Homo sapiens: one gene and its partners. The protein of the gene in region 3 purifies or fractionates together with the protein of the main gene of each other region. This does not show direct contact. Each region holds a gene or a part of one and is shown on either strand. Other genes may lie near its edges. The genes, in order: CIB2, TLR2, RIPK2, NAT16, IGF2BP2, CAMK4 and SLK.

The links.
Region 1: the proteins of RIPK2 (region 3) and CIB2 purify together in Homo sapiens (co-immunoprecipitation; one large-scale study listed by IntAct). This does not show direct contact.
Region 2: the proteins of RIPK2 (region 3) and TLR2 purify together in Homo sapiens (affinity purification with western blotting; one study listed by BioGRID). This does not show direct contact.
Region 4: the proteins of RIPK2 (region 3) and NAT16 purify together in Homo sapiens (affinity purification with western blotting, with the first as the bait; one study listed by BioGRID). This does not show direct contact.
Region 5: the proteins of RIPK2 (region 3) and IGF2BP2 purify together in Homo sapiens (affinity purification with mass spectrometry; one large-scale study listed by BioGRID and IntAct). This does not show direct contact.
Region 6: the proteins of RIPK2 (region 3) and CAMK4 purify together in Homo sapiens (affinity purification with mass spectrometry; one large-scale study listed by BioGRID and IntAct). This does not show direct contact.
Region 7: the proteins of RIPK2 (region 3) and SLK purify together in Homo sapiens (affinity purification with mass spectrometry; one large-scale study listed by BioGRID and IntAct). This does not show direct contact.

What each region holds. Positions count from the first base shown.
Region 1 is NC_000015.10:78,107,446-78,110,945, forward strand, and holds part of CIB2 (calcium and integrin-binding family member 2), read right to left. Parts: intron 2,065-3,500; coding exon of another isoform or gene 1,938-2,064; coding exon 1,790-1,937; intron 1-1,789. UniProt on the Homo sapiens protein: Calcium- and integrin-binding protein that plays a role in intracellular calcium homeostasis. Acts as an auxiliary subunit of the sensory mechanoelectrical transduction (MET) channel in hair cells.
Region 2 is NC_000004.12:153,687,280-153,690,779, forward strand, and holds part of TLR2 (toll-like receptor 2 precursor), read left to right. Parts: exon of another isoform or gene 1-622; 5' UTR 623-768; intron 769-774; exon of another isoform or gene 775-1,066; intron 1,067-3,500. UniProt on the Homo sapiens protein: Cooperates with LY96 to mediate the innate immune response to bacterial lipoproteins and other microbial cell wall components. Cooperates with TLR1 or TLR6 to mediate the innate immune response to bacterial lipoproteins or lipopeptides.
Region 3 is NC_000008.11:89,785,316-89,788,815, reverse strand, and holds part of RIPK2 (receptor-interacting serine/threonine-protein kinase 2), read right to left. Parts: intron 2,224-3,500; coding exon 2,130-2,223; intron 1-2,129.
Region 4 is NC_000007.14:101,173,794-101,177,293, forward strand, and holds part of NAT16 (probable N-acetyltransferase 16), read right to left. Parts: intron 1,019-3,500; 5' UTR 1,015-1,018; coding exon 703-1,014; intron 1-702. UniProt on the Homo sapiens protein: Probable N-acetyltransferase. Shows only trace activity toward L-His and no N-acetyltransferase activity toward other amino acids. The physiological substrate of this enzyme is unknown.
Region 5 is NC_000003.12:185,642,630-185,644,836, reverse strand, and holds the end of IGF2BP2 (insulin-like growth factor 2 mRNA-binding protein 2), read left to right. Parts: 3' UTR 1-1,707; downstream 1,708-2,207.
Region 6 is NC_000005.10:111,479,384-111,482,883, reverse strand, and holds part of CAMK4 (calcium/calmodulin-dependent protein kinase type IV), read right to left. Parts: intron 100-3,500; coding exon 1-99. UniProt on the Homo sapiens protein: Calcium/calmodulin-dependent protein kinase that operates in the calcium-triggered CaMKK-CaMK4 signaling cascade and regulates, mainly by phosphorylation, the activity of several transcription activators, such as CREB1, MEF2D, JUN and RORA, which play pivotal roles in immune response, inflammation, and memory consolidation.
Region 7 is NC_000010.11:103,970,140-103,973,639, reverse strand, and holds part of SLK (STE20-like serine/threonine-protein kinase), read right to left. Parts: intron 1-3,500. UniProt on the Homo sapiens protein: Mediates apoptosis and actin stress fiber dissolution.

The DNA of each region.
Region 1 (3,500 bases), on a different chromosome or scaffold from region 3:
GGCTGGCTGGCTGAATTCCTGTGGCCATTTAACCTGAGTAAACTGAGGCTCAGAAGTGAGATGATCATTGTTGCAAATGAGGCCCCAGGCCTCCCCAGCGCCAGACTAGGAGGGCCCTGGCTGCCTCTCCCCACTCCACCCCCAGCCTAGAGCAGCAAGGAAGCCACAGTTCTTCCATGTATTCCTGTGCCCACCCGGTCCATGCGATCTGCACGCCCCTGTCTTGGGCAGACAGCAGCCCGTCCCAGGAGCAATGCTATGGGGTCCAAGACCGGGCGGATGTTGGGTGGAATCTGAGAAGCTTTTTACATGAGCCATGTGGGCATAGTTTGTGGAGGGCAGACTGGCAGGTATTTTCTTTCTAATATGCAAGCAAAACGTGGGTGCACAGACAGAAACCAAAGTCCTCTGAAATAAACATGATAACTAGAAAGTGAAACGTCAGTCTGGGCGTGGTGGCTCACACCTGTAATCACAGCACTTTGGGAGGCCAAGGCAGGCAGATCACCTGAGGTCGGGAGTTCGAGACCAGCCTGACCAACATGGTGAAACCCCATCTCTACTAAAATTACAAAAATTAGCCAGGTGTAGTGGCGGGCACCTGTAATCTCAGCTACTCAGGAGGCTGAGGCAGGAGAATCGTTTGAACTTGGGAGGCTGAGGCAAGAGAATCGCTTGAACCCGGGAGGCAGAGGTTGCAGTGAGCCGAGATCACACGATTGCACTCCAGCCTGGGCGACAGTGGGACTCTGTCTCAAAAAAAAAAAAAAAAAAGAAAAGAAAAGAAAAAAGAAAGCAAAATGTCAGCCCCTGATAGGCCCTGCTGCCTTTGGGATCCAGTGTCTGATCAAACGTGCTGAGGACAGGAGCTTTGACCTTGACTCTTCAGGTCCAAGTTGGGTCCCAGCCCCTTCCTAGGCCTTAGGCATCTCAACTGAGGTCTATCTGAGGATTTGACACCAGTCCCCATGGGTCTGTCAGGCCAGCAGAGGGGGTGAGCTCGTGGGTATGAAGTTTTCTCCCTGTGGCTGTGGGAGAAGCATGAGTCCTTGGCTCATGAGTGCCCGCCGCCCTCTGGTGGCTGGTGAGACAGCCAGCCTGAGGGCAGAGCTGGGCGGGGTGAATCCAGGTGGCCCTACCTCAGGCAGTATTCGGGGGGGCTCCAGAGGCCCCCCTGCAGGCCTGGCCTTACCACCATGGCCTAGGCAGCCTCTCTGGCTCCTCCATTTTACACCTCAAAGCTGCTGAGTGATCCTTCTAGAAAACAGAGCTGCCCTTCCTCACTGGAAACCTTGCAGTGGCCCTGGTGTCTGGATCACTAGGTCCAAACTCTGTGGCTGGCTCCCACAGCCTGGCCCCAGATTCTCTCCAGACTCATACCGCCCCCTGTCCCACCACCTTCCAAGTTCCTCCCATCTCCTTATCAAGCTCTGCGCTTCCCTGTGTCTGCATGGGCTGCGCCCTCTGTCAGGTCTGCCAGCCCCCTCTTCTCCAGTCCAAGCCTCTGCTAGTCCCTGCTTAAAGGTCATGCCTGGGACCCCTCTCACACTAACCACCCGACCTGGGATGGGTGAGTCCCTCCCTCCTTCGTTCTCAGGACCCTCACAGATGTCTCTCAGGGACTGATCGTCTCCCTTGGCCACCCCACTGGACAGGCACTCTTCAGAGGACAGATCAGCTTCACTGTTCTTGGTGTCCCTAGGGCAGGAGCCAGTAGTAACCAGACAGCCTAAGGGCCCCACATGTTCCCCCACCGCATATTCAGGCCCCCTCCTCTAGCCCTGGTTACCATAGATCTTGAAGGCATAGTTTGCCTTGAGCTCTCGGGGAGCCGACTCGCAGAGCACGGAAAACATGTCCACAAAGTCGTTGAAAGTGAGGTTCCCCTCACCATCCTCGGAAAACGCCGCCACGATCCTTTCTTTGAAGGGATTCTCCTGAAGAAAACACACACAGCAATCACTGTGGGTGCAGGATAAGCAGGAGGGCCCCGGAGCCAGACTGTGGACAGCCTGTGTGACCCTGGAGGAGTGACCAAATCCCTCTGAGCCTCGGTTTCCCCATCTGTAAAAAGGGAATAATAATAACACCTTCTTAATTGGGTTGTGATGGGATTAAATGAGCTAAAGTATGTAAGGTGTTGGTACCAGGCCCGGCACATGTAAGAGCTCAGGAAGCATTCTACTGGGTCATGTCACATCATTAAGATGGGCACAGCCAGGGACAGTGGTGCACGCCTGTAGTCCCGCTATTTGGGAGACTGAGGTGGAGGAATCACTTGAGCCCAGGAGTTTGAGGCTTCAGTGAGCCATGATCGTCCCACTGCACTCCAGCCTGGGCGACAGAGCAAGACCATGTCTCCAAAAAAAAAAAAAAAAAAAAATGCTGAGCACAGCCAGTGTGTTATCACTGGAGGCACTGCCTCATCTGAAGCAGAAGCAGAAGCACAGATTCGTCCTGTTACCCAGAAGAGCACACAGAGGCTCTGCCTGGATGTGTAGGGCTCTGTCCCCAGCAGAAGAAGATGACAGCCCAGGGCACTGGTGGCCCTCAGCTCAGGCCGTGTCAGGCCAGGATCGTGGGAGGTGGATGTGGGGTCAGATAACTGGACCAGTCAAGCAGCAAGAGCCATACAGCCAGTTCAGGCCCAGGTCTGCTGTCACTCTGCTCCTGTGAATTCTCCCCTAGACCACCTTGGATGCTGCCTCTCCCAGGGAGCTGTACACGGATGCCTTCCTAGATCCCCAAATCACTCATCCTGCAGCCCTTCCATCCCAACTGAGCTAGCGCTTGGCTAGCGCCATTCCGTGCCCAGCCCAGGCCAGTGCGGGAGGCTCAGAGACAGACCACTTGGGTCCTACCCATGAGTGTCTCACCTGCTCCAGCAACCCTCTGAGCTTGCTCTTGAGCCCCTTGCTGGGCCAGACGGGGTGCTGGTCCAGGGCTGAGCCTGGGGCCCATTGTCTCTCAGGACTGAGGTCACAACCAGAGTGCAGGCCCCAAGTGGATGCCATATAGCACTCTGACTCCACCTTCAAGCCACACATCCCAGGCCTGGCAAGGGGCTACTGACGAAGTCCCACTGCAATGGGGAGTTGTGCCCCAAATGCCTTCTTAATGCTGAATGCACTTTACATATTATGGATAAGGAACTCATGAAACGAAACATTCAGATATATATGGTCTGAGGATCAGCAGCATCAGTCTCACCTGGGAACTTGCTCGAAAAGCAGAATCCTGACTCTACTCCACATGTACTGAGCCTGAATTGGCATTTGGACAAGATCCCTGGGGAGTTTAAAATTAAATTTTAACAGGTACGTTAAAGTCTGAGAAATGATGCTATGGATGACCACCATGCTGACCTCAGTGAGAAGCCACAGCCAGACAACGGGGAGACAGAAAAGTTATCTAACAAAGCAGACACAGGTCTGCCAACTACAGCAGGCTTGGGGCCACTTAACAAAGGGACAAGCAAATGAGCACAAGCCCATGGCCTG
Region 2 (3,500 bases), on a different chromosome or scaffold from region 3:
TAAAATAAATCCAGAGAAATCAGAACAGGGGAAATAATAATATAAGAATAGAAATTAATGTGCTAGAAAATAGGGGATCTATCAAGTCAGAAGTTGATTTTTTGAAAATGCTAATAAAAATGATGAACCTCTGGCAAGACAATAAAAGCTGGTACAAATAACTCATCTAAGGAATAAAATTGAGGACCTCTCTTTTGTTAAATGACATAAGCAGGAGGCCATTATCCTGAGACTGTCTCTACACTTTGAGTTCTTACATAATAAACTGCAACCTAATTTAGTATACTACATAAACAAACTGAAACCTAACTTAGGAGCTTTTTTTTTGTAATTAATAGCTAAATTTCCACCAAATCATAAATAGCCAAGCTTTAGCCAATCACAGGCAGCCAACTGATCAGACTATGCCCAAACAAGGTAAATGCCTATTACACCATACCCAAATAAGGCAGACTCCTAGCTGAAGCCAATCAGGTGATTACTATGCTCTTGTGTTTGGCCTATAAAAGCTCACTGCTCACACTGTTGGATGCTCTCTGAAACTTTTGTGAATCTGAGTGCTGCCTGATTCATGAATCATTCTTTGCTAAAATAAACTCTGTCAAATTTAATTTGTCTGAAGTTTCTCTTTTAACAGTGTTTGGTGTTGCAAGCAGGATCCAAAGGAGACCTATAGTGACTCCCAGGAGCTCTTAGTGACCAAGTGAAGGTACCTGTGGGGCTCATTGTGCCCATTGCTCTTTCACTGCTTTCAACTGGTAGTTGTGGGTAAGTTCCTGCTCAGACTTGAGCACTATACATTTGCATTTTCAGCTCTCTGACTTTATTTGAGCAATTCTTTGATGGATTGGCTCCAGAATTGGATTGGATTCAGTGAAGAAACTGAAACTGGACTGGTGCTCTAGGAGGCCTCAAGTAGATAAGGTTACTAGAAGACAGGGAATCCTGGGCTTATCTGGATTTAAGGAGTCTACAACTCCATCTGCAACTCCAGCCGATTTCATTTATAAGAATTATGGACCAAGAACCTGTGCTTTTCTAGAGAAATGTGTGAGCCTTACTAAAGGTAACTTAGAATTACAATGGACTGCTGAGACCAGCTCGGTCGTGGAGACCCTAACCCAGCAGCGCTAGAGGAATCAAAGACACACACACAGAAATGTAGAGTGTGGAGTGGGAAATCAGGGGACTCACAGCCTTCAGAGCTGAGAGCCCCTAACAGAGATTTACCCACATATTTACTGACAGCAAGCCAGTGATAAGCATTATCGCTATAGATTATAGATTAACTAAAAGTATTCCTTACAGGAAACAAAGGGATGGGCCGAAACAAAGGGATAGGCTCTGGCTAGATGTCTGCAGCAGGAACACGTCCTTAAGGCACAGATTGCTCATGCTATTGTTGTGGCTTAGGAACACGTTAAGCGGTTTTCTGCCCTGGGTGGGCCAGGTGTTCCTTGCCCTCATTCCAGTAAACCCACAACCTTCAGCGTGGGCGTCATGGCTGTCACAAACATGTCACAGTGCTGCAGAGATTTTGTTTATGGCCAAATCTGGGGCTAGTTTATGGCCAGGTTTGGGAGCCTGTTCCCACATGTCCCCCTTTTTTGTTTTGCAAAGCAATAAAAGCAAAGGCAGCTTTGTCACAGTGAGCTACTTCTTGCAGGAGTCGGGATTCGCATATGCATACTATACAAAGACAAACAACACAGATTAAAAGCACAACCATCATTGAAATCACAGAGCTTCCAAGTGTCTTTATCTATTTTAATGGGTTAATCACTGCTAATCTGTCTGCAGCTCCTTCAAGCACTCCAGTTCCTGGCATTAAGGTCTGGTGTGCCTGGAATGCTTTAAATATTTGTTCTTTTAATATTGCAATATGGAAAGACAAGTTTGTAGAGTGTCTTCTAGGTGCTTTTTTATTCTTTCCTGAATTTGGTCTTATTTAAGAGCCATTAATAGTTTCCACAAATCCTTATGTTTAGCTCCTACAGCGGGCCATATCATTTGAGGGTGAGGTGCCACTATACCATCATGTTTCCAGATAATAGGAACTCTTGCCATATTTCTTGCTATTTCTACCATCTGACCATTTTGTTTAGACCAGCTAAACATAGTGTGGCCATGGCACGCAGACTGAGAGGTGCAATTTAAGCTAAACATCCCCTTAGGGGACCAATCAATAATGATTCCATAGGAATCACTGCGCAGCACCTCTGCCTATTCTGCAATGCAATCTTCCCAAACAAGTATGTTCATTATTTCTGGCCAGGTCCAATTCTGTTTACAAATAGGTTTTTGAGGGCAATATGCCTCAATTATAGAAACAGATTTATTATGGTAAATACTGAGATCAGAAAGCATGTGTAACTGTGTCATAGAATGATTACATCCAGGCATTATTGCCAGCCAAGATTGATAAATATGCCCAATAAGTATAATTGTTCTCTGTGTTAGCCCTTGTTGAAGGAATACTAATGGCAATGGTGATCACTGCTATCATAGCTATCATTAAATTACTCATTGTGACTGGTTGTCCCACTTTCCTCAGGTTTTCTTCCACCCTCTATGGCAGTTTCTTGATCTGTCCCCAGGTAGATGGCTGTGTTTGATGGTTGTTGCTCGTGATAGTTTGGGTCCTCCTCAGCATCAGTCTCGACATGGCTGCAACCAGAGGGTCCTCGGGATCCTCCCAGAATCTCTTCCTTGGCATCTGGCTCATGATAAGGTTTCAGGTGTCTTGATGGTATCCAAATCAGCTATTGATTCTGGCCTGGAGAAACACAAGCATAACCTCTACCCCAAGTTATTATTTTACCTATTTCCCAACTTTTTGTTGTCAGATCTCTGCACCAAGCCAGTTGTTCTGCTTCTGTTTTTGCAGCTGGTTTCTGTAGATGCTCTTCAGCTGCTGATAGCATCTGGCCTTTAGGCAGGCTCAAAAAATTTAAAGTCATTAATGCTAGATTCAGTTGTATATGGGGTGTCCTGTAATCCCTGTTTCCCCTTTTTGCTTTTGCAACTGCTGTTTCAGGGAGAGATTCATTCTTTCTACAATGGTTTGTCCTTGAGAATTATATGGGATGCCAGTAATGTGTTTAATATTCCATATAGAGAAAAATGTAGCTAGAGCTTGGCTAGTATAGCCTGGGGCATTATCTGTTTTAACAGAAGTTGGAATTCCTATCACCACAAAACACTGCAAAAGGTGATGCTTAACACATGCAGTCTCCTGATTGGCATGTAGCCCAGACAAAGTGAGAAAAGGTGTCCACACATACATGTACATAAGCTAGTCTCCCAAACGAGGGAACGTGTGACATCCATTTGCTAAAGATAATTAGGTTCCAATCCTCGAGGATTAACTCCTCCTGTTAAAGATGAGGAATGCACCATTTGGCAAGTTGGGCATCACTGGATAATAGCTTTAGCTTCTTTCCAGGTACTGTTATATCTGCATTTGAGACCAGAGGCATTAACATGGGTTAAATTGTGAA
Region 3 (3,500 bases):
CCTCCCTCTCTCTCTCTCTCTGTCTCTCTCTCTTTCTTAGATGGAGTTTTGCTTTTGCCACCCAGGCTGGAGTGCAATGGTTGCGATCTCAGCTCACTGCAACCTCCACCTCTCAGGTTCAAGCGATTCTCCTGCCTCAGCCTCTTAAGTAGCTGGGATTACAGTTGCATGCTACCACAACTGGCTAATTTCTGTATTTTTAGTAGAGATGGAATTTCACCATGTTGGCCAGGCTGGTCTTGAACTCGTGACCTCAGGTGATCCACCTGTCTCAGCCTCCCAAAGTTCTAGGATTACAGGTGTGAGCCACTACACTCAGCCATGAACCTTAGTGTTATATTTTCAAAAGCCCTCTGGCCATCAACCCTTTGTGTGCTCCTAGTACCTCAAATTAAAAACAAAAACAAAAACATTAAAAGTATAATTATCCGTCTTAACTCTAAAACTTGTTTTAACTTTTTTTTTTTTTAATTGAGATAGAATCTTGCTCTGTCACTCAGGATGGAGTGCAGTGGCGCAATCTCAGCTCACTGCAACCCCTGCCTCCCAGGTTCAAGTGATTCTTGTGCCTCAGCCTCCTGAGGAGCTGGGATTACAGGTGTGCACCACCATACCCGCTAATTTTTTTGTATTTTTAGTAGAGATGGGGTTTTGGCATGTTGGCCAGGCTGGTCTTGAACTCCTGGCCTCAAGTGATTTGCCCACCTTGGCCTTGCAAAATGCTGGGATTACAGGTGTGAGCCACCGCATGCAGCCTGTTTTAACTTCTATTTCTTTTAATGGCACCAATGTTCTCCCAGTCCCCAGGCTTAACAATTTATTTGGCTTTACCTCTTTTTTCTCTCATCGCTCCTCTAAGTGAAAAGTTACAAAGTCCTATCATCTAGTTGTCTATAACATCTCACATACCACCCCTCCTTTCTTTCATTCTGTATCGGTTCTTAATAATCTCTCACGGGTACTACAGTAATAGTCTCCTAACTGATCTCCCCATCTCAAGTTTCCTTTTCCTTTCAAAATATCCTACACATTCCAGCCAGAATGAATCTCCCCAAAGTAAAAAATTTTATGTCACTCCCTTGCTCAAAAAATTGCAATAGTTGCTTCCTACTCAAGTAAAAAAGTCCAAATAGTTCAGCTGAAAGTTAGAATTCTTGATGATATGACTCCAATCTACTTAGCTCTTACTTCTTTCATTCACCTTCTTTACTAGCTAAACCAAATTACTCACTGTTCTCTGTATTTTCTTGCTTCTGTACCTGTATGTTGTTCCTTTTGCCTGGAATGCCTATCCTTTGTAATTACAGATCCAGCCTTCAGCCAGAAATAATTTCATGATGACAACATGGTAGAGTAGAGTGACATGATAATATTTATCAAAAGTCTTAGATGTGCCAGCTACTAGCTATGTGATCCAGAGTCCTTAAATGTGTAAAATGAGGACATTTCTCTCACAAGGTTGTTGTGAAAGTCCTTTGTACAGTGTTACTCTTCCACTGTACTACCATAGCTCTAGATCCACGTCTCTCTTATATCACTATCTCATATAATAGTTATTTAGAAACATTTCTCCTTTTTCTTGTAAGAGATTTTTTTGCGGACATTTTCTGGCAGTGTCTAACATAATGCCTGTTTTTTAAAATTTATTTTTTGACACAGAGTCTCACTCTGTCGCCCAGGATGGAGTGTGGTGGTGCAATCTCGGCTCACTGCAACCTCCCTCCCAGGTTCAAGCGATCTTTCCGCCTCAGCCTCCGAAGTAGCTGAGACTACAGGTGCCCACCACCATGCCTGGCTAATTTTTGTATTTTTAGTAGAGATGGGGTTTCACCATGTTGGCCAGGCTGGTCTCGAACTCCTGACCTCAGGTGATCTGCCCACCTTGGCCACCCAACATGCTGGGATTATAGGTGTGAACCACTGCGCCTGGCCAAACATAATGCCTTAAAACTTAAATGTATTTGTTGAATATCACACTACTATTTTCCTATCTTTAGACTCTGTCGCTTTACAAAATGAGTTATATATGCAAATTAAAGTTCCATAGAAATCATGACTGCTTGCAAAAATTTGATCTTGAAAGAAAATGGAAAACTTGCAAGTAAATAATGATTGGAAAATCTACATACTAGATAAAAAATCATTGTCTTGAGGAGCTGGCAGGGACCTTGAAGTTTCAGGAGAACCACTATTTTCATGGAGCTGAGAGGATCCACATGATTCCTAAAGTAAATAAAAAATAAAGGGTTTAGGTTAATAAAAATTATCGAGCTTTAATTTCTAAATAGTTCTTGTTTGTGGCTTATCACAAATGAAGATAAAAACTACTAATTTTTTTTTTTCAGACAGGGTCTCACTCTGTTGCCCAGTCTGGAGTGCAGTGGCACAACCTAGGCTCACTGCAGCCCCACCCTCCTGAACTCAGGTGAACCTCCCATCTCAGCCTCCTTAATAGCTGGGATTATAGGTGCACACCACCATACCATGCTAAATTTTGTATCTTTCGTAGAAATGGGGTTTCGCTACGTTGCCCAGGCTGGTCTCAAACTCCTGCGATCAAGTGATCCACCAGCCTTGGCCACACAAAGTGCTGGAATTACAGGTGTGAGCCATTGTGCCCAACCTACAAAACTACTAAAAATTATACTTTACAAAATTAAAGAAACACATACATCTATAAAATAACCAACAAAGATAAACTTATTTTCTTAATTAACACAAATGGGCGAAATAGGGGAATAATGAAACATTAGAAATAATTATTTTTTCAGTATTTTCTACACGATCTCAGATGCTGCAGCCAGTAGCTAGAATAGTGAATGAGAAATTTGGTATCTGCAAGTCTGGTCTCCTACAGATTTAGAAATGCCTGTTCTCAGCACCTCAGGTTCCTTCCACATGGAGGCACAGGAAAACATGGAAAAAGTAATGGAGAATTTTACTCCTAGCTCTGTCATGGAATCACTAGCTAACTTTCAATAAGGTATTTAACCTCTCTGGCTCTCAGGTTTTTGGCTCTATTATCCGCACTGTCTATCTAAAAATATGCATGAATGGCCTCAAAGATCAAATGAAATACTGTACATCAAGTGATTAAAAATGTGATATACTATGCTTTAAGGTTCGTTTTAAAGATACTACAGGTTTAATATCCCTTATCTGAAATGCTTGGAACCAGAAGTGTTTGGAATTTTGGATTTTTTTCAGATTTTGGAATATTTGTATATATATAACGAGATATCTTGGGGTTGGGACCCAAGTCTAAATATAAAATTCATTTATGTTTCATATACACCTTATACACACAGCCTGAAGGTAACTTAATTCAATATTTTAAAATAATTTTATACCTGAAACAAAGTTTTTTTTTTTGAGGTGGAGTCGCCCAGGGTGGACTGCAGTGGTGCGATCTTGGCTTGTTCAAGCAATTCTCCTGCCTCAACCCCCCGAGTAGCTGGGATTACAGGCATGCGCCACCATGCCCAGCTAATTTTTATATG
Region 4 (3,500 bases), on a different chromosome or scaffold from region 3:
GCTCACTGCAGCCTCAAACTCCTGGGCTCAAGCGATCCCCTACACCCCCAAGACTTCCTAGTAGCTGGGACAACAGGCACGCACCCCTACTCTCGGCTTTTTATTTATTTTTATTTTTTGGAGACAGGGGTCTCGCATGTTGCCCAGGCTGGTCTGGAACTCCTAGCCTCAAGTGATCCTCCTGCCTCGGCCTCCCAAAGAGCTGGGGTTACAGGAGTTAGCCGACGCGCCCGGCCCCTTCCACCTCTTGAGATGCTCCAGCTCCGAGTGTGTCAAGTTCCGGACCGCTCACCACGCCCCTTCCTTGGCTCCTCCCCCGGGAGTTTGCCACGCCCCACTTCCTCTTAGCTCCTCCCCCAGCCCAAATCTAAGCTCTTCCTGCTCCCACCCCTAGCCTACCCTCTCTCTCCTGCTCCCCACCTCCTTTGCTTTTACCCCCAGAAATTCCTCCGGTGGATCCTCGAACTTTCAAACGCTCACCTGTCCCTCTGGTTCCTCTGCTTTAGGAGTCCTCCACCCCACCCTCACTGACATAGCCCCTGGATCCGCACTGCACGCCCTGCACTTTGGTCCCAAAGCAGGCTCTATTTCCGCAGCCTCCAGAGGAAGGCTGGGGAGAAGCTCTCATCCTCCTCTTCCTAAGATCCACGCACCCGCAGGTGGCTTCACCCCATGTCACCTGGGCCGTGCCCCCGGGCTCACCACGCCTCCGTTGCGCTTGGCCAGCACCACCGTGCGGTCGGGGTCCCGGAGCCAGCTGTGGTAGCGGCTAGGAAGGTAGTCCAGGCCGCCGTAGATGCCCCCCGAGATGGCCAGCACTTCCTCAAACTCCCGTTCCGTGGCCACCACGAAGTCCAATGGCTCGGCCTCAGCCTCAGGCCCCGATCCCGACCTGGGCTCGGCCTCCACCTCCTGTGGCCGGGTTTCAGAGCTTGGCTCTGCATCTCGGGCAGTCTTCTTTTCCGGCTTAGGGACCTCTGAGGTGGCTGTGCCACAGCTGGCTTCCAGCTTCATGACCCTGCAGAAAAAAAGAGAATTCAGCACCTGGATCAGCCCCTTTGTTTCCACATCTGGGCCCCTGCACACAAACGGTCCTAATGCCCCTTCCTACACAAATAGCCTTTCTTTTTCTTTTCTTTTATTTATTTACTTATTTACTTATTTATTTATTTATTTTTTGAGACGGAGTCTCGTTCTGCCGCCCAGGCTGGAGTGCAGTGGCGCGATCTCGGCTCGCTGCAACCTCTGCCTCCCCGCTTCAAACTATTCTCCTGCCTTCACCTCCTGAGTTGCTGGGACTACAGGTACGTGCCACCATGCCTGGCTAATTTTTGTATTTTTAGTAGAGACGGAGCTTCACCATGTTGTCCAGGCTGATCTTGAATTCCTGACTTCAGGCGATCCTCCTACCTCAGCTTCCCAAAGTGCTGGGATTACAGGTGTGAGCCACCACATTGGCCCCTTTCTTCATTTCTTCTTCTTATTTTTTTTTTAATACAGATAGGGATCTCACTACTTTGCCCAGGCTGGTCTCGAACTCCTGGGTTCGAGATCCTCCTACCTTGGACTCCCAAAGTGCTGGGATTACAGGTGTGAGCCACTCTACCTGGCCCACACCCTTTCTTTTCTGCTGTCCACACAGACCCTGGGAGTGGAGGTCTCCCAGCTCCCTCCCTCTTCCCACCAGCTTTCAGAAATCTCAGCTCTACCCACCCCACTCTTATGGGATGCTCCCTAACAGTCAGAAACTTAGAACCCTGTGAGATCCCCATAGACCAGCCCCAGATCCAGGGACCCAGGCAAAAGAAAAAAGGCACTTGGGGGTAGTTTTAAAAAAAAAAAAGAAGAAGAAGGCTGGACACGGAAACTCATGCCTGTACTCCCAGCACTTTGGGAGGCCAAGGCAGGTGGACTGGTTGAGTCATGGAGTTTAAGAACAGCCTGGGCAATATAGTGAGACTCTGTCTATAAAAAAAATTAGCCAGGCATGGTGGTGCAGTGGGCCTGTAGTCCCAGCTGCTCTGAGGCTGAAGTGGGAGGATCGTTTGAGCCAAGGAGACAAAGGTTGCAGTGAGCCGGGATCACACCACCGCACTCCAGCCTGTGTGACAGAGAGAGAACCTGTGTCAAAAAAAAAAAAAAAGAGGCACACTCCTTCAAGGATCCCATCACCTCTCTAAGACCTCTGCAAGGACAACATGAGAAAGAAACTCCCACTGTCACCCCTCTGTCCACAAGAAAGTTCCCAGAGAACAGTGGAGGGCTCACCCTCACCCCATTTCCTGCCACTACCAGCTACAATCCCAGCCAGGGCCAAGGGGGAGGGTGTAGACCCCAAATATCCTCCATATTGCTGCCCCAGTTCCCTGTCCCCCCACCTCCACCTCTTGACATACACATTCAAATATAAACAAGATAGATAGCTCCACTAGAAAATGTCAAGCCAGCCTAGCATGGCGGCTCAGCCGAGGCGGGTAGATCACCTGAGGTCAGGAGTTCGAGACCAGCCTGGCCAGCGTGATGAAACCCCATCTCTACCAAAAATACAAAAATTAGCCAAGCATGGTGGTGGACACCTGTAATCCCAGCTACTAGGGAGGCTGAGGCACAAAAGTCACTTGAACCCGGGAGGTAGAGGTTGTAGTGAGCCTGAGCCGAGGTTGAGCCACTGCACTCCAGCCTGGGCAACAGAGTGAGACTCTGTCTCAAGAAAAAAAAAAAAAAAGAAGAAGAAAATGTCAAACCATTCTTTCTAAGCCAATCAATGCCCCCCGCCCCCGCCCCTTTCCTTCCTTCTGCCCCTCTTCCCCATAGGGAGACTTGGGCTCTGTCCACTCCAGGACTAGGAATTGTTTGAAAAGTGTTCTGTCGGAGCTCCACCAAAATGAAAGAGAAAGCCCCCTATCCAAGTCCCAGCAACTTCTATTTCTGGGCCTGTCTCTTCCAGATCAGCCAAATCAACCAATCAAATCCCCCCTCTCTCTTTCAGCCAATGATAATGCTCACCTCAGATAACCTACGTTAAGCCTCATTAACCAACATCCCAAGGGCACACAGACCAGCTATTCTGTGGGGGTGATATTGACTTATTGACTTAACTGGAATTTTTATTTTTTTTTTTAACAAAAGTCTTACCTAGGTTTGGGGAAGGTTGACCAGCAGTGGGACCAAGGAGTGGTTTGCACTTCCAAGCCATAAACAGAGCTTGCCTAAACGCGGTATGCTTGCTATACAAACCAAGCTTCAAGACAAGAGTTCTATCTCCCTCTTTGTTTTCTGATTCTTTCTCATCTGATTCCAACACCTGGAGATTACCTGGATATGGAGCCAGAATTATCAGAGAGGAGGAAGCCAGGCTCAGAGGATTTAGATCCTCTGCTGGGGCCATTAGAGACCATCAGGTTCAACCCATTCATTTCATAATCAAGGAGATTAAGAGCCTTGCCCGAGGTGACTCAGTCTGGGCAGAGCCAGGCTAAAAGTTAAGTTTCCTTGGCTTC
Region 5 (2,207 bases), on a different chromosome or scaffold from region 3:
TGTCAACAGAAGGGATACCGTCTCCTTGAAGAGGAAACTCTGTCACTCCTCATGCCTGTCTAGCTCATACACCCATTTCTCTTTGCTTCACAGGTTTTAAACTGGTTTTTTGCATACTGCTATATAATTCTCTGTCTCTCTCTGTTTATCTCTCCCCTCCCTCCCCTCCCCTTCTTCTCCATCTCCATTCTTTTGAATTTCCTCATCCCTCCATCTCAATCCCGTATCTACGCACCCCCCCCCCCCCAGGCAAAGCAGTGCTCTGAGTATCACATCACACAAAAGGAACAAAAGCGAAACACACAAACCAGCCTCAACTTACACTTGGTTACTCAAAAGAACAAGAGTCAATGGTACTTGTCCTAGCGTTTTGGAAGAGGAAAACAGGAACCCACCAAACCAACCAATCAACCAAACAAAGAAAAAATTCCACAATGAAAGAATGTATTTTGTCTTTTTGCATTTTGGTGTATAAGCCATCAATATTCAGCAAAATGATTCCTTTCTTTAAAAAAAAAAAATGTGGAGGAAAGTAGAAATTTACCAAGGTTGTTGGCCCAGGGCGTTAAATTCACAGATTTTTTTAACGAGAAAAACACACAGAAGAAGCTACCTCAGGTGTTTTTACCTCAGCACCTTGCTCTTGTGTTTCCCTTAGAGATTTTGTAAAGCTGATAGTTGGAGCATTTTTTTATTTTTTTAATAAAAATGAGTTGGAAAAAAAATAAGATATCAACTGCCAGCCTGGAGAAGGTGACAGTCCAAGTGTGCAACAGCTGTTCTGAATTGTCTTCCGCTAGCCAAGAACCTATATGGCCTTCTTTTGGACAAACCTTGAAAATGTTTATTTAAAAAAAAAAAAGATGACAAAGAAAAACAGAGAGAGAGAATATTGGAGATGTCCTGAATTTTAATAGGGTACGCGCCATTAGGGCTTTTTGCGCTAAAGGATGAACATGTACTGGTTTATGTGGACAAGCCATTATACCACCAGACTGCAATGCCAGTTTCCTCTACTGCAAACAGTGTTCTGTGACAAAAAAAAAAAAAAAAAAAAGAAAAAAAAAGAAAAAACAGAAATATATCCAGCTAACAAGATCCTGGTGTCTTGGTGTTTTATTTTACTAGGCATTGCCTCATCCCAGGTGTCAGCTGAGTCCTAGCTCTGAGGGACCTGGGCAGACAGGCGGTAGGTGTGACCTGGATCCACACAGCTACTCTGAGAAAGCTGGTTTTGCCCAGGAAAGTCTTTGGGAGAAGCTAAACTAGATCGGTGGTCAAAGTGTAGTCCCCAGACCAGCAGCATCAGCTATCATCTGGGAACTTGTTAGAAATGTAGATTCTTGGGGTCCACCTTGAATCAGAAATCCTGGGGGTGAGGCCCAGCAACCTTTTCAGCAAGGCCTCTGGGTGATTGCTGTGCGCACTGAAGTTTCCGAACCTCGGAGCTAGAGGGATGGATCGACTGCATGTCAAGCTAGAGAAGACCAGTCTATCCTTAAGGAACTGCAAGCCTGGCCAGGCAAAGCTGCTTTTTAAGTGGAGGAAAGGGGGAGGATAATATGCCCGGCAGTTCCGGGAAGAGGCACTTCACGCCTCCACGGGAAGCTCACTAGTAAGTGCAGGCATACCTCAGGAACGTCGCAGGTTCAGTTCCAGACCACCACAGTAAAGCGAACTTTGCAATAAAATGAGTCATACACGTTTTAGTGTCTCACTGCATGTGAGTTATGTTTACACTGTATTAAGTGTACAATAGCATTATGTCTAAAACAGTGGGTTTTTTTTGTTTTTTTTTTTTTGACACAGAGTCTCGCTCTGTCGCCCAGGCTGGAGTGCAGTGGCACGATCTCAGCTCACTGCAACCTCTGCCTCGTGTATTCAAGCAATTCTCCTGCCTCAGTCTCCCGAGTAGTTGGGACTACAGGCATGTGCCACCCCACATGGCCATTTTTTGTATTTTTACTAGAGACGGGGCTTCACTGTGTTAGCCAGGACGGTCTCAATCTCCTGACCCCGTGATCTGCTTGCCTCAGCCTCCCAAAGGGCTGGGATTACAGGCGTGAGCCACTGTGCCCGGCCCAACAGTGTACATATCTTAATTAAAAATAATTTATTGCTAAAGAATGCTAACGATCATCCGAGCCTTAGGCAAGTTGTACTCTTGGCTAGTGAAGAGTTTTGCCTCAATGTTGATGGCTGCTGAC
Region 6 (3,500 bases), on a different chromosome or scaffold from region 3:
GTGTACAAAATTGGCTGCTTTACCTGTGACCCACGGATGCTGGAGAGCTTGAAATGTAGTCAGCCGTTTCTTTGGATCCAAAACAATTAATTTTCTGACCTGAAATAATAAAGAACCATAAACTTAGCGAGGTTTTTAGGATGACCTGGGCTTGCCCTCAGCTTACAAACTTCCAGATCTTATTCCATTTCCCAGCAGTACCACTAAATATATGTGAGAAAAAAATTGTTTAAGTCCTCAGGGGCCACTGTAGGTAGGCACAGCTTCAGGTAGCAGTAGCTGAGGGAGTATGAGAAGACAGGGCCATGTACCACCTGAGACCCCCAAAGTGGCAGACGGCTTTCCAACAGAAGTCAAGAAACAGCTCCTCACTTGCCTGTGGACTGGAAGTTCTTTGAAGGCAGAACCAGCAAAATAATTCTGGGCTGCGCTTCACAATCACCTAGAATTCAGAACTTAAAGTACATCTCTATGGTAACAGAATGGAATCATTCATGCATCATCATTCTTTCTGTGGGGATTAAATGGCAAACAAAAGGGAGAGTATCCCAGAACTTATGGAATACTACCTTATGTTTCTATCTTGGGGTTTATAGTTCTTTCTAACCCCTTGAGGGTACTTGAAGGACTAAGCCCAGAGTTTAAAAATCATTTTATAATCCAAGAAGTCAGTGGCTTGAGGGCATGATTTGCCTAAAGAATGGAATCCAATCAATGGCAGCCCATTCTTGGAGGTTTACCCCTGCTTGTGAGGATGGGCAGTCAATAAATTCCCAGGAAGGTCAGCAAATAAAATAATCCACAGTCCTGGGCTTAGTAGGGGTGACCTGATATGAGGCAGAGACTATTGGGAGTCAGGAAGTGTGTTCAAGCCCTGGTTATGCCACTCGCCACTTTTGTGACCCTAGATATAGACAAATATATAAATTGCCTGTGGACACCCCCTCAGGCTCTTTCCTTACAGAATCTTATTTCCACTTTAATTCCTTTGTAATTGCTTCTTAGATGCATATATAACTTTTTAAAAACTCATGTAATCTTTTAGCAGCCTTATCATTTGGAACTACTAGTGCCAATTCATAAATGAGGGAAGCAGGGTAGCTCAGAAAGATTTAGTGACTTGCCTCAGGTCAGACAATTTGGAATTGATGGAGCCTGTATTTAGACTCAGGTCTGTGTATGTCAGAGCGCATCTTGTGGCCACTACAGCATGATGTCTCCAAGGTGGTCAATCTCCCTGTACCTTGGCCTGCTCATGTGCAAAATAAGGAGCTTTGAATGATTGTAGGTCTCAGGTCTTTTCTAACTCTAATTACCTAAGGAGACGTGAACATAGGCTAAGGAAATCAGGCGGCAAGTCAAATGAGGAATAAATACTATCTGGTTCTCTCTTCACTTCCTTTCTGCAAAAGAATGTGTGTTTGGGCTAGATTTGTAGTGGGCAGAGACATGAGGCTCTTTAGGCTTAAAATCTGAGAGGACATGGAGGAAGGTAGGATGGTTAAGAGAAAGAAGGCATGGTAGTAAATAAAAATCTGATAGTAGTCATGGCTATTATCCGTTGAACAGGACTACTAATAATTTTATGTAAATGAGCCCTAATCCTTACAACATTTTTGACAATTAGGTATTTTCTTTTTCTTTTCCAATCATTTTTCTCCTCTCCCTCCTCATTACTATCTTCCTCACAAAAATACAAAGAATTTATTGAAAGTCAATGTGCACCAAAAATTTATATACACCATTGTTAATCTTTACATTTGAAGATATTGATAACAATCCTAACTGAATTATTAGGAAACTTTCTGAAGGTTATAATCACACTCAAAGCCTTGCCATTACCCTGCAGTACCCCTTACATCCAATTCCCCAACTCCTTAGCACTTAGTCTCTGCCGATGACACAACAGATGTGGGTTTTGCTAGTAAGTATACATTTATGGAGCTCAAGGATTCTTCCAGTTCTGAAGTTTTAAGCAGTGATAAACTAACAAGGGATCTAGCTGAATGAAGGAACATCAAAGCTAACCCTCTTATTCACTTAATATTTATTAAGGGTGAAAAGAAATGGAAGGAGGGCTAAATAAGATTACTATTATTAAGTTAGTTGATATTAGTTACTTAACATATATTATGTTCCTTAATTCTCACAACGACCTAGAGATAGGTACAATTATCATCCTAGATGAGAAAACTAAAGCATAGCAAGGTTAGATCATGAGCCTGAGGTTACACTTCCAGGACATGACAAAGGGGGCACTTAAATCCAGGTGTGTCAGACTCTGAAACTTCACGGTGTACTTCCAGATCCATTGTTTCATCCAATAAACATTTACTGAGTCAGTCCTATATGCCTATGTGGTTCTAAGGTCTGGGTACACACGCTTTGTCCTGCCCCAGAGCTTAAAATCTAATTAAGGAGGACCATTAAATATATAAGTGATGACTGTTATGAACTGGGGAGTGCAGGGGGTAAAGGAAGATTTTGGCAGAAGGAACCAACTATAGGTGGGAGGGACTGAAGGGGAAGGCCGACCATGCCTCCCAAGGGATATCTAGTGGCAGCTGGGGCTTGAGAATAAGAGTTACCCAGGGGTGTGTGTGTGTGTGTGTGTGTGTGTGTGTGTGTGTGTGTTTACATGCCTATGTGTAATGGAGAAGAAGGTGGGGAGGAAGAAAGAACATTACAGAGCAGAAGAGCCATGGCAATATCCTGAGCTATGCTGATGAGAAACTAGAAGTGTGGTGCACTAGAGTGAAAAGTGATCAAAGGGGAGAGATGTGAAGTGAGTGATGGCACAGGAGAGAGTGGCAGGCCCCAGACCAGGCAGCGTCATGTAGATCTTGTTATGGGTTTTGGATTTTATCCTAAGATTCTTAAAGCAGGACAAGGACATGATGCGATTTATTTATAAGACCATCCCTCTGGATCCTGTACAGACTGTATTTGAGAAAGGCATGAGAAGAGGCAGGGAGGTCAGATAGGAGGTTGGGGCAGTGGTCCGGGGGAGAGAACTGGATGGATTCAAGAGGTGTTTAGGAGCATGGGGTATGACTTGAGGAAGGAGTTGCAATGACATATTTATACATCACACATCACACACACTGACTTTCTCTTCCCACTCATGCTGGAAAAGCCATGAGCCTTAGGGAATCTGTTCCATGAAGGAACACAGAGGGTAAGGAAGAAATGCTTGAAGAAAAAAGAGCACAGGAAAGGGAGTCTGGACGACTGGATCAGCCCTAATAATGTCTTTCTGCTGGGAAGCTGTGTGACCTTAGCAGTCATTTCACCTCTCTGGTCTTTAGCATTCTCATCTTTAAAATGAGAGGAGGACTAGATGCCTCCTAAGACCTCTTCTATATCTAACCTTCTATGATTCAAAAGTCAGCTTTTGATTATGTCTGTGTGGTTGTTCTCTAGTGGATTGATGAGAAATGTTTCAATCTCATGTTAGCATCCTCTTTATTTTATAAGAGGTGAGTGACCTCCCCAGAAGG
Region 7 (3,500 bases), on a different chromosome or scaffold from region 3:
AAAAAAGACCTAAACAGAGATAAAACATGCACAGGTGGGAAGACTCAATATCAAAGAGAGGTTAATTTTTCCAAAACTGATTTATAAATTCAATGAAATCTCTCCAAAAAAACACAGATTTTTTGTGGCACTCAACCAGGCTAACTGGAAAATGTACATAGAAGCCCTAAGGGCCAACAATACTACTAAACTATGTTGAAGAAGCAGCAGAAATTTATTTTAATTCTTTCCTAATTAAGACAGTGGGATACTGGTATAGGAATAGACAAATAGATCAATGAAGAGAACGGAGAATGCAGAAACAGACACATGCTACATAACAGGGCACTGCAGAGCAGTGGGGAATTATTTTTCTTCCCAGCAAATAGTTCTGGGACAATTGTGTATCCATATGGGGAAAAAAATGAAACTGGACCCCTACCTCATACCATTTACAAACATCTATTCTAGGTAGATTATAGATCTAATTGTTAAAGAAAAGCAAAATCATAAAGCTTTTAGAAGATAATATAGAAGATTATCTTCATGATCACACATTAGGAAGAAATGTCTTAAACATAACACAAAAAGCATCAACTGTAAAGGAAAAAACTAACAAATTGGACCATGTTAAAGAATTCATAAAAAGACACTACAGTGAGAATGAAAAGACAGGTCTCAGAATGAGACTATATTAGCAATAACTATCACCAGCAAATGGTTAAAATTCAAAACACATATATTGTACACACACACAATCAACATACAAACAAAGACTTCAAGAGAAAAATGGATAAGAGACTTGAACACAAAAGAAGAAATTCAAATTACCAAAAACATATTAAAAGAATTACTTTTAGTAATCTGTGAAAGGTGAATTAAATGCACAATGAGAAATGTAACACATTATCAGCCTGTCAAAACTTTAAAATTCTGACAATATTAAATGTTAGCAAAGATGCAGAGCAAGGAAATTTTTTTTTTTTTTTGAGACGGAGTCTTGCTCTTTCGCCCAGGCTGGAGTGCAGTGGTGCGATCCCGGCTCACTGCAAGCTCCTCCTCCCGGGTTCACGCCATTCTCCTGCCTCAGCCTCCCGAGTAGCTGGGACTACAGGCTCCTGCCACCACGCCCGGCTAATTTTTTGTATTTTTAGTAGAGACGGGGTTTCACCGTGTTAGCCAGGATGGTCTCGATCTCCTGACTTCGTGATCCGCCCGCCTCGGCCTCCCAAAGTGCTGGGAATACAGGCATGAGCCACCGCGCCTGGCAGGGCAAGGAAATTCTTCAACTGCTGGTGGGAATGTAAACTTGTATAATTAGTTTGGCATCATCTGGTAAAATTAAAGATACACTACCCTATAACCTAGCAATTCCATTCCTGGATTAACTCTTAGTGAAACTCATGTATATGTGCAACTACCGTTTTGTGTAAGAGCCAAAAACTGGAAGCAACCAATATATCCATTAATTGTACAATAGTAAATAATTGGTGATATCATCATATAATAGAATACAATGCTACAACGAAAAAGAACTACAGCTCTATGTGATAAAGATGAACCTCACAAACACAATACTGACTTTGAAAGAGGCAAGACACAAAAGAATATGTTCAATATGATTCCATTCATATAAAGTTCAAGTGCATACAAAACTAAATTTATAACATTTAGGGATATAATCCTAGATAGTAAATGATTAAGAAAAGCAAATAAATGAATAACTTAAAGATAGGATAGTGGTTTCCTTTAGGGAGAGAGAAGATATTAGATACAGAAAGGAGGCAAGAGGGATTCTCGGATGTTAGCAGAATTCCTTGACACTGACAGTTGTTAATAATAATTCACTTTATTATCTGCTAAATGTATATGTTTCCATACTTTTTAATACAAAGATTATATATTTTACTATTTTTTAAAAGGCACACAGCCATCAGTTGTCATATAAAAACTACTTTCATCCAGCACACAGCCAAGAGTTTAGTTTCAACTGGTTTAATAGATAAAATAGCTTTCTAGAAATGCAATTCAATTCATAATCTTATGTCATTCTTTTTTTTCTGTTAAAAACAAGAGAAATCCAGCAGGGGGTGAGGGGCAGTGGCTCATGCCTCTAATCCCAACACTTTGGGAGGCCAAGGCAGGCGGATCACCTGAGGTCAGGAAAGACCACCCTGGCAAACATGGTGAAACCCCGTCTCTACTAAAAATACAAAAAATTAGCCCGGCACGGTGGTGCGTGCCTGTAATCCCAACTACTCCGGAGGCTGAGGCAGGAGAATTGCTTGAACCTGGGAGGCGGAGGTTGCAGTGAGCCGAGATTGCGCCACAGCACTGCAGCCTGGGCGACAGAGAGGGACTCCATCTCAAAACAAAACAAAACACAAACAAAACAACAACAACAAAAAAAGAGAAACCCAAAGATAAAATATTGTGAAGGATATTACATATCTTCATTTATATGTCAAATAATACTATTTTTAAAAGAGAAAATAAATTTAAAGTAGTGAAGCTTTTTCAGGCAAGGAAGTAACTGTTAAATGTGTACAGTGCTGGACTGAGTGGAAGGAATACAACAAGTACACGATGGAAGAATGACTCAGACTAAATACACAACATGATTACCTATAGGTTACACATCCCAAATCTGAAAATCTAATCTGAAATGCTCCAAAATCTGAAACTTTCTGAGTGCTAACATGACATGATGTTCAAAGGAAATGATCACTAGAGCATTTTCAATTTCAGATGTTCAATAACTAAGTATAATGCAAATATTCCAAAATCCAAAAAATTCCAAAATCCAAAACACTTCTGGTCCCAAGCATTTGGGAAATGGGATACTCAACCTCATCTCTATTTACAATATAATCTTTGTAACAGTTACTAATTTCTGTAAGCAAATGATAGTTAGAATCAAGTTTATAAACAGTTTTCTACTACATACTACTACGTACTATGTTAAGGTTCCATAGCTTTTTCTTCCAAATATAAGGAAGTTTATAAATCCTCAATTTCTATGGAATCTTGAAAAACAAAAACTTTTAGAAAAAAGAGGCCATAAGAAGACAGATAAGTTTTAATTTCAAATTTTATTTTTTAAAAAACTCATACCCTACTCCTTAGAAGCAGAGAGTAGTGAAATGAAAAAAGAAAAAATAGTGCCAGCCCGTGCTCTTCAAATATCATACTAAAATACAGTCATCAAGATCACAGAAATTCTCCTTGACACAATTTTATAGTGCTCAAATAACTACATGAAATAAGACTCTTGTTCTTCAGAAATTTTTCAATTAATGTCTCAGTACAGGAAGATAGATCACATTTTGCAGAAAGTGTCATGAAAGAATAACACAGGGCTTTAGTATCTCCACACAGTCTGCCCATGCCATTAGAAACCAACAAAATGGTTTATTATCTTCTTGGTTCCTTTCCCTATCTCATCCCAAAGTTTGCATCTATGAGCTCTAAATGTAATAACAGTAATTTCTACCATTTACTGAGCCCTTTCCATGTGCCTT